Homo sapiens: one gene and its partner. The protein of the gene in region 1 purifies or fractionates together with the protein of each later gene. This does not show direct contact. Each region holds a gene or a part of one and is shown on either strand. Other genes may lie near its edges.

Region 1 (3,825 bases):
AGCCAAACATTAATTAAACATTTGGCTCAAACACCTTGAGGCAGTAAGACTTTCTCTCTCTACTGATGGAACACTGTGTGTACAGGGGAGTGCGTTCAAAGTCCAGCTGTTGTATGTCTTCACTGGCTTTTACATTCTGCAAGGCCCTCTTGAACCTTCTTGCTTATCCACTGTGTATGTGCTGAGGATCCATTAGCCCAGAATGTTTGGGTGTCTTGGGTCTATCTTCCAAATCTTTGATGCATATCCTTGCAGCCTCTGGTCCACTTGGGATATGTAGAGAGCTTATAAAGCCCCCTGTGGCTGTGTCATCCCTGGGAAATTCCTGTTAAATCCCACCTAGTTTGCCAATCCATAGCTTGCCTCAAATAAAAGGCAACATAAGGCAAGCAGAGCCACCTTCTATCCATGTTTGCTTGCCACTGAGATCACCTTTTTAAACTGATAATGGCTCCAACTCAAGTAAGCCTCCTTTGGCCATGGCGGCAAGGCTGTTCATTTTCATGTTCTGCCCCAACCTACTTGAACTTCACTTACAACAGAACTGGAGTGGTGGAATGGGGGTTGTTCCAGGCAAGAACAACAAAAAGAAATTGTCCTTATCTGAAATTCAGCGATCTTCATGAATAAGCATTTCTCTGATTGTGGTATATGCCTTTAATTTTATTTCTAGAGTGACAAATTTTTGGTTTTGACAGTTTTTTTCTAGCTTTATAGTTTCTTCTTGGGGAGAGAATATGTCAACCTCACTCCATCATGCTGAAGTAAATCTTCATCTCTTAATTTTATCTCTCAAAAATATCCTAAGGATTCCCTCTGGAGCCTGATAAGTAATTGCAGTATCTGGTTTCTATGGTTGGATGATTCAGGATTCCAGGAATAATAGTTACTTTTTAGACCTCTAAAGAAGAAGTAACAACCACGTAAATGAAAAGATGCTTCTTAAATCATGGAGAATCAGGGCTTAGTATCACTGTATTTTCAAACTGTTTCAGCCTTACTTTATAACTGATTTAGTATATTTTTCTTTTAATTTCAGACTTCAGTGAAGTTCCTTATGACTTCCCCTGAAATTGCTTCCTTATCATGGGGGCAAATGAAAGTAAAAGGCTCTAATACAACCTATAAGGACTGCAAAGTATGGCCAGGGGGTAGTCGGACTTGGGATTGGAGAGAAACAGGAACTGAGGTAAGATATTAGTCTTTGGTTGATACTACATGAGGCTGACCAAGTGATTTCCAACTTCCTAAGCTGCAATGACTAAGTGAAAAACTATTTCTCTTGTGTCTTTTTGAGATATAATTCATATACCATTAAATTCACCCTTTTAAAGTATGCAATTCAATGGACTTCTTACATTCAATGCCCCTGTAGTGACATTATAGTGACTTACATTCATAAACTTGTACAACAGTTACCACTGTTAGTTCCAGAATATATTTATCACCTCAGAAAGGAACCACATAACCACTACCAGTCAGTGCCCATTTACTACCACTCCTAGCCCCTAGAAATGATTAATCTACTTTCTGTTGTTATAGATATGCCTATTCTGGATGTTTTCTATAAATTACATCATTCAGATATCTTAGGTGTGTTCCTAGGAGTGGATTTCTGGGTTATATAGTGTTTAACCTTTTGAGGTACTGCCAGACTATCTTCCAAGGCACCTGCACCATTTTACATCTCCACTAGGAATATAGGAAGGTTCCAGTTTTTCCACATCCTCCTCAACACATTGTTCTTTTCATTGTTTTGTTTTTATTAGAACCATCTTATTAGGTGTGAAGTGTTGTTCTCATTGCGGTTTTTATTTGCATTTCCCTGCATTTCCTCAAGTATTCTCAGTGTGCCATTCCCAAGGTAGAGCCTCCTTTCCATGAGTGTAAGTTGGGCAAAACAAGGGAGCCTCTACCTTTTGACCCCACTCACCTGGGATGTAGCCTCAACAACAGAAAGATGGGGGCAGGATGAGAGGCACTAAAGTCCTGCTCCTCCTGGGAAGGAAGCCTTCCAGCTAGATGCTGAGGGGAGAAAGAGTCTTGTGTTCTTGGCTATGGCAATCTGGAGAGTAGTCTCTGCCTCACGATGGGGATGGGGCAGGAAGGCATTTATCTTGACGCCTCCACTGTACATGTGCACAGATTCTTACCTGTCTTACCAAATATCTCAATGAGTTCTGGCTTCTATAAAAAAAATTGTCATAGACTGAGTGCCTTAAATAATAAATATTTATTTCTCACAGTTCTGGAGACTGAAAGTGTGAGATTAGGATGCCAGCATGGTTCTGGTCCTTGTATTAATTCATTTTCATTAGTTCATTTTCATGCTGCCGATAAAGACATAACTGAGACTGGGGAGAAAAAGAGGTTTAATGGACTTACAGTTCCACATGGCTGGGGAGGCCTCACAATCATGGCAGAAGGCAAGGAGGAGCAAGTCACGTCTTACATGGATGGTGGCAGGCAAAGAGAGCTTGTGCAGAGAAACTCTCGTTTTTAAAACCATCAGATCTCATGAGACTCATTCACTATCACGAGAGCAGCACAGGAAAGACCCACCCCCATAATTCAATCACCTCCCACCGAGTTCCTCTCACAATATGCAGGAATTGTGGGAGTTAAAAATCTAAGATGAGATTTGGGTGGGGACACAGCCAAACTGTATCAGCCCTCTTCTAGTTTGCAGACAGCCAACTTCTCTTTGTATCCTTACATAGTGGAAAGAGAGGTAGCTAGCTTTTGGGCTTCTTATAAGGGCACTAATCTCATTCATGAGGGCTCTACCCTTAGGACCCAGTTACCTCCTACAGGCCCCACCTCTAAATAACATCACATTGGGATTAGAGTTTCAATATATACATTTTTAAAGGACACACATATTAAGTCCATTGCAGCAAATTTTTTTTTACAGTTTTTTCTTTCTTTCTTTGTTTTTTTTTGGAGACAGTCTCCCTCTGTCGTCCAGGCTAGAGTGCAGTGGTGAGATCATGGCGCACTGTAGTCTACACCACCTGGGTGAAAGGGATCTTCCTCCCTCAGCCTCCTGAGTAGCAAGGACCACAGGCATGCAATCACACCTGGCTTATTTTTTTTAGTTTTTATAGAGATGAGGTCTCACTACATTGCCCAGGCTGGTCTTGAACTCCTGACCCCAAGAAATCCTCCCACCTTGGCCTCCCAAAATGCTGAGATTACAGGCATGAGCCATCATGCCCAGCCAGATTTTGTTGAATACACGTTTATTCATTGGGTATTTGCTCTTAGGACCATTTCCAGAGGCTTTAGGGATTTTGTTTTGTTGTTTTGTTGAGTTCTTGGTTTGGGTTTTTCTTTGTCGTTATTATTAATAATTTTTCACATAGGAGTGGGTCAGTGGAGCGCCTCATGATGTAATGATGGAAGTAGATCCTTCATTTTTGAAGAATAGTTTGTTGGATATAGATTTCTTTGATCAATCGTCTTTTTCTTTCAGCACTTTCAATATGCCATCCCACCACCTTTTGGCTTCATTGGTTTCTAATGATAAATCAACCATTAGCATTATTAGATCTCCCTTGGACTTGTTGAGTTGCTTCTCTCTAACTGCTTTCAAAACACATCACAGTAATTTAACTATGATATGTCTAGGTATGGATATCTTTGAGTTTGTCCTACTTGGAATTTATTGAGCTTCATGAAGATGTAGATTATTGTTTTTTTAATCAAATTTGGGGAAGTTTAGAGCCATTATTTCTTCAAGTATTCTTTCTACTCCTATCTCCCTTTTCTTGTGACTCTCATTATGAATATATTGATAGGCGTTAGGGTGTCCTACAGGTCTCT
Region 2 (3,825 bases), on another chromosome or scaffold:
CTCATCGGCGCACGAACCCTGTTGTGAACTGCACATGTGAGGGATCTAGGCTGCACACTCCTTATGAGAATCTAATGCCTGATGATCTGTCACTGTCTCCCATCACCCCCAGATGGTACTGTCTAGTTGCAGGAAGACAAGCTCAGGGCTCCCACTGATTCTACATTATGTTGAGTTGTATAATTATGTCGTTATATATTATAATGTAATAATAGAAATAAAGTGCACAATAAATACAATGCACTTGAATCATCCTGAACCATACCCCCACAACGCCGTCCATGGAAAAATTGTCTTCCATGAAACTGGTCCCTGGTGCGAGAAAGGCTATGGACTGCTGCTTTATCAGATGTGTGTTTCACAAATATTTCCTCCAAAAAAAAAAAAACCACCTCAAATATTTCCTCCAAGTCTGTGGTTTATCTTTTCATTCTCTTTAACGGTATCTTTTGTAGAGCAGAAGTTTTTAAATTTAATGAAGTCCAACATCAAATTTTTCTTTCATGGAGTGTGCTTTTGGTATTGTATTTAAAAACTCATCACCTAATCTAAGGTCACAAGGATTTTCTTCTGTTATTTTCTAGAAATTTTATGGTTTTATATTTTACATTTAGGTCTGTGATCCATTTAGAGCTAAATTTTGTGAAAGGTGTAAAGTATGTGGCTAGATTTATTTATTTATTCATTTTTGCAAATGGATATCCAGTTGTTCCAGTACCATTTTTGGAAAAGACTGTCCTTTCTCCATTGAATCCCCTTTGCTCCTTTGTCAAAGATCAGTTGACTCTCTTTGTGAGGGTCTATTTCTGGGTTTACTATTCCATTCCATTGATCTGTTTGTCTATTCTTTTTCTAATACCATACTTTTTTGATTATTGTAGCTTTACGGTAAGTGTTGAAGTCAGGTAGTATCAGTCTTCCAACTTTGTTCTTTAGTATTCTGGACTGTTCTTGGTCTTTTCTGCATTTCCATGTAAATTTTAAAATCAGTTGGTTGATATCCAAAAAATAACTTTGGGCTTTTGATTAAGACTGTATTTAATCTGTAGCTCAAGTTGGGAAGCACTGATACCTTTTTTTTTTTGAGACGGAGTCTCGCTCTGTCGCCCAGGCTGCAGTGCAGTGGCGCAATCTCGGCTTGCTGCAAGCTCCGCCTGGGGTTCATGCCATTCTCCTGCCTCAGCCTCCCGAGTAGCTGGGACTACAGGCGGCCGCCACCACGCCCAGCTAACTTTTTGTATTTTTAGTAGAGACGGGGTTTCACCGTGTTAGCCAGGATGGTTGTGATCTCCTGACCTCATGATCTGCCTGCCTCGGCCTCCCAAAGTGCTGGGATTACAGGCTTGAGCCATGGCGCCTGGCCAGGAAGCACTGATATGTTAACAAAATAAAGTCTTCCTATCCATGAACATGTTATATCTCTCTATTTATTAGCTCCTCTTTGATTTCTTTCACCAGGATTTTGTAGGGACATTCTAAAATCTATTTTGGTAATTATATTTCACTATAACTGGCTTCCTTTGGAATCCTACATATTCCATTTTATGCATTTTTAAATATGTCTCACAAAAGAGATCCTGAGCTTCCTCAGACTATCAAAGGGGTTAATAAACAAAGGTTAAAGAAGTAGTAATTCTGCTCTAAGCTATCATTCAGCAAACAATTTGTATTCAACAAAATGTTTAATGAAATGTTAAAAGGAAATGTGGAGGTTGATAGGTGAGGATAATTTCTTGTATTGTCTTGCCAGTTTAACATTTATTTTTCCTAAAAGAACCAGCATCTCAATAGAGTTGGCATTATACATAGTGTGACTTTTGTATTTTTAAGGCTGTCAAAAAGAAAACCTGCCCCTAAACTTTCCTTTAACTGAGGCAGCGTATTCCTCCTGCTGACTGGCTAATTTCTAGAATTAGATTATTAGAGTTTTCTAACTCTGATTTGATACTTCTTAAGGAGAAGCAGCAATAGGAAAGACTATCTCAGTTTCTTCATTATAAAATGAGGAAAATAATAGCTTTTTTTTTTTTTTTTGAGACGGAGTTTTGCTCTTGTCACCCAGGCTGGAGTGCAGTGGTGCAATCGTGGCTTGCTGCAACCTCCACTTCCCGGGTTCAAGTGATTCTCCTGCCTCAACCTCCCGAGTAGCTGGGATTACAGCTGCCCGCCATCACACCCAACTAATTTTTGTATTTTTAATAGAGATGGGGTTTCACCACATTGGCCAGGCTGGTGTCGAACTCCTGACCTCAGGTGATCCGCCCACGTGACTTGACCTCCCAAAGTGCTGGGATTACAGGCATGAGCCACCGCACCCGGCCAATAATAGCTTTTTTGCAAGGTTGTTGTATTAGTCAGGGTTCTCTAGAAGGACAGAACTAGTGTAATATATATATATATATATATATATATATATATATATATATATATATATATATGGGAGTTTATTAAGTATTAACTCACATGATCACAAGGCCCCACAATAGGCCATCTGCAGGCTGAGGAGCAAGGAGTTTCAAAACTGAAGAACTTGGAGTCTGATGTTTGAAGGCAGGAAGCATCCAGCTCAAGAGAAAGATATAGGCTGGGGCTGGGCGTGGTGGCTCACACCTGTAATCCCAGCACTTTGGGAGGCCGAGGCAGGCGGATCATGGTCAGGAGATCGAGATCATCCTGGCCAACACAGTGAAACCCCGTCTCTACTAAAAATACAAAAAACCAGCCGGGCGTGGTGGCATGCGTCTGTAGTCCCAGCTACTCGGAAGGCTGAGGCAGGGGAATCACTCGAACCCAAGAGGTGGAGGTTACAGTGAGCCGAGATTGTGCCACTGCACTCCAGCCTGGCGACAGCAATACTCTGTCTCAAAAAAAAAAAAAAAGATATAGGCTGGGAGGCCAGGCCAGTCTCTCTTTTTCGCATTTTCTGCCTGCTTATATTCTAACTGCACTGGCAGCAGATTTGGTTGTGCCCACCCAGATTCAGGGTGGGTCTGCCTTTCCCAGCCCACTGACTCAAATGTTAATCTCCTTTGGCAACATGCTCACAGACACACCCGGAATCAATACTTTGTATCCTTTAATCAAATCAAGTTGACACTCAGTATTAGCCATTACAGTTGGTATAAAGATTAAAGATGGTAATAAATTAAAGAGAATAACAATTCAAAAGAGTGGTAAATTCCTTAGCACAATGTCTACCATCTAGTATATTGTCACCTATTTTTACTTTTTAAGTTTTTTTTGAGACATGGTCTCGCTTTGTCACCCAGGCTGGAGTGCAGTGGTGTAATCACGGCTCACTGCAGCCTCAACTTCCTGGGCTCCAGCGATCCTCCCACCTCAGCCTCCCAAGTCGCTGGGACCACAGGCATGCGCCACCACACCCAGCTAATTTTTTGTATTTTTAGTAGAGACAGGGTTTCACCATGTTGCCCAGGCTGGTTTTGAACTCCTGAGCTCAAGCAATCCACCCACCTCAGCCTTCCAAAGTGCTGAGATTACAGGCATGAGCTACCACGCCTAGCCCCTAGTAGATGATTTTAAAATGCTGATTGTTATTACTGAGAAAGGAAATATGCTCAAACCTATTACTACTGCTTCATCAGTGACTAGAAATGTGTGCCCTCTCCGCTCTGAGTTAGAAGAGGGAAGGATTGTAGAATTCCGAGGCAGGCCTACTGTTTATACCTGTTCCTTCATAAGCATTGTCAGCTTTTAAGCATTGGTGAGGTAGTATGTTTGTTTATGCTTATTAGTTCTTTGCCAAATGTTTAATGAAAAGTTGTCTTAAATTTACTAAAAGTGAAACAAAAAATACGTGTATCT

The links.
Region 2: the proteins of AAMDC (region 1) and MANSC1 purify together in Homo sapiens (co-immunoprecipitation; one large-scale study listed by IntAct). This does not show direct contact.

What each region holds. Positions count from the first base shown.
Region 1 is NC_000011.10:77,841,440-77,845,264, forward strand, and holds part of AAMDC (mth938 domain-containing protein), read left to right. Parts: intron 1-1,039; coding exon of another isoform or gene 1,040-1,057; coding exon 1,058-1,189; intron 1,190-3,825. UniProt on the Homo sapiens protein: May play a role in preadipocyte differentiation and adipogenesis.
Region 2 is NC_000012.12:12,343,530-12,347,354, reverse strand, and holds part of MANSC1 (MANSC domain-containing protein 1 isoform 1 precursor), read left to right. Parts: intron 1-3,825.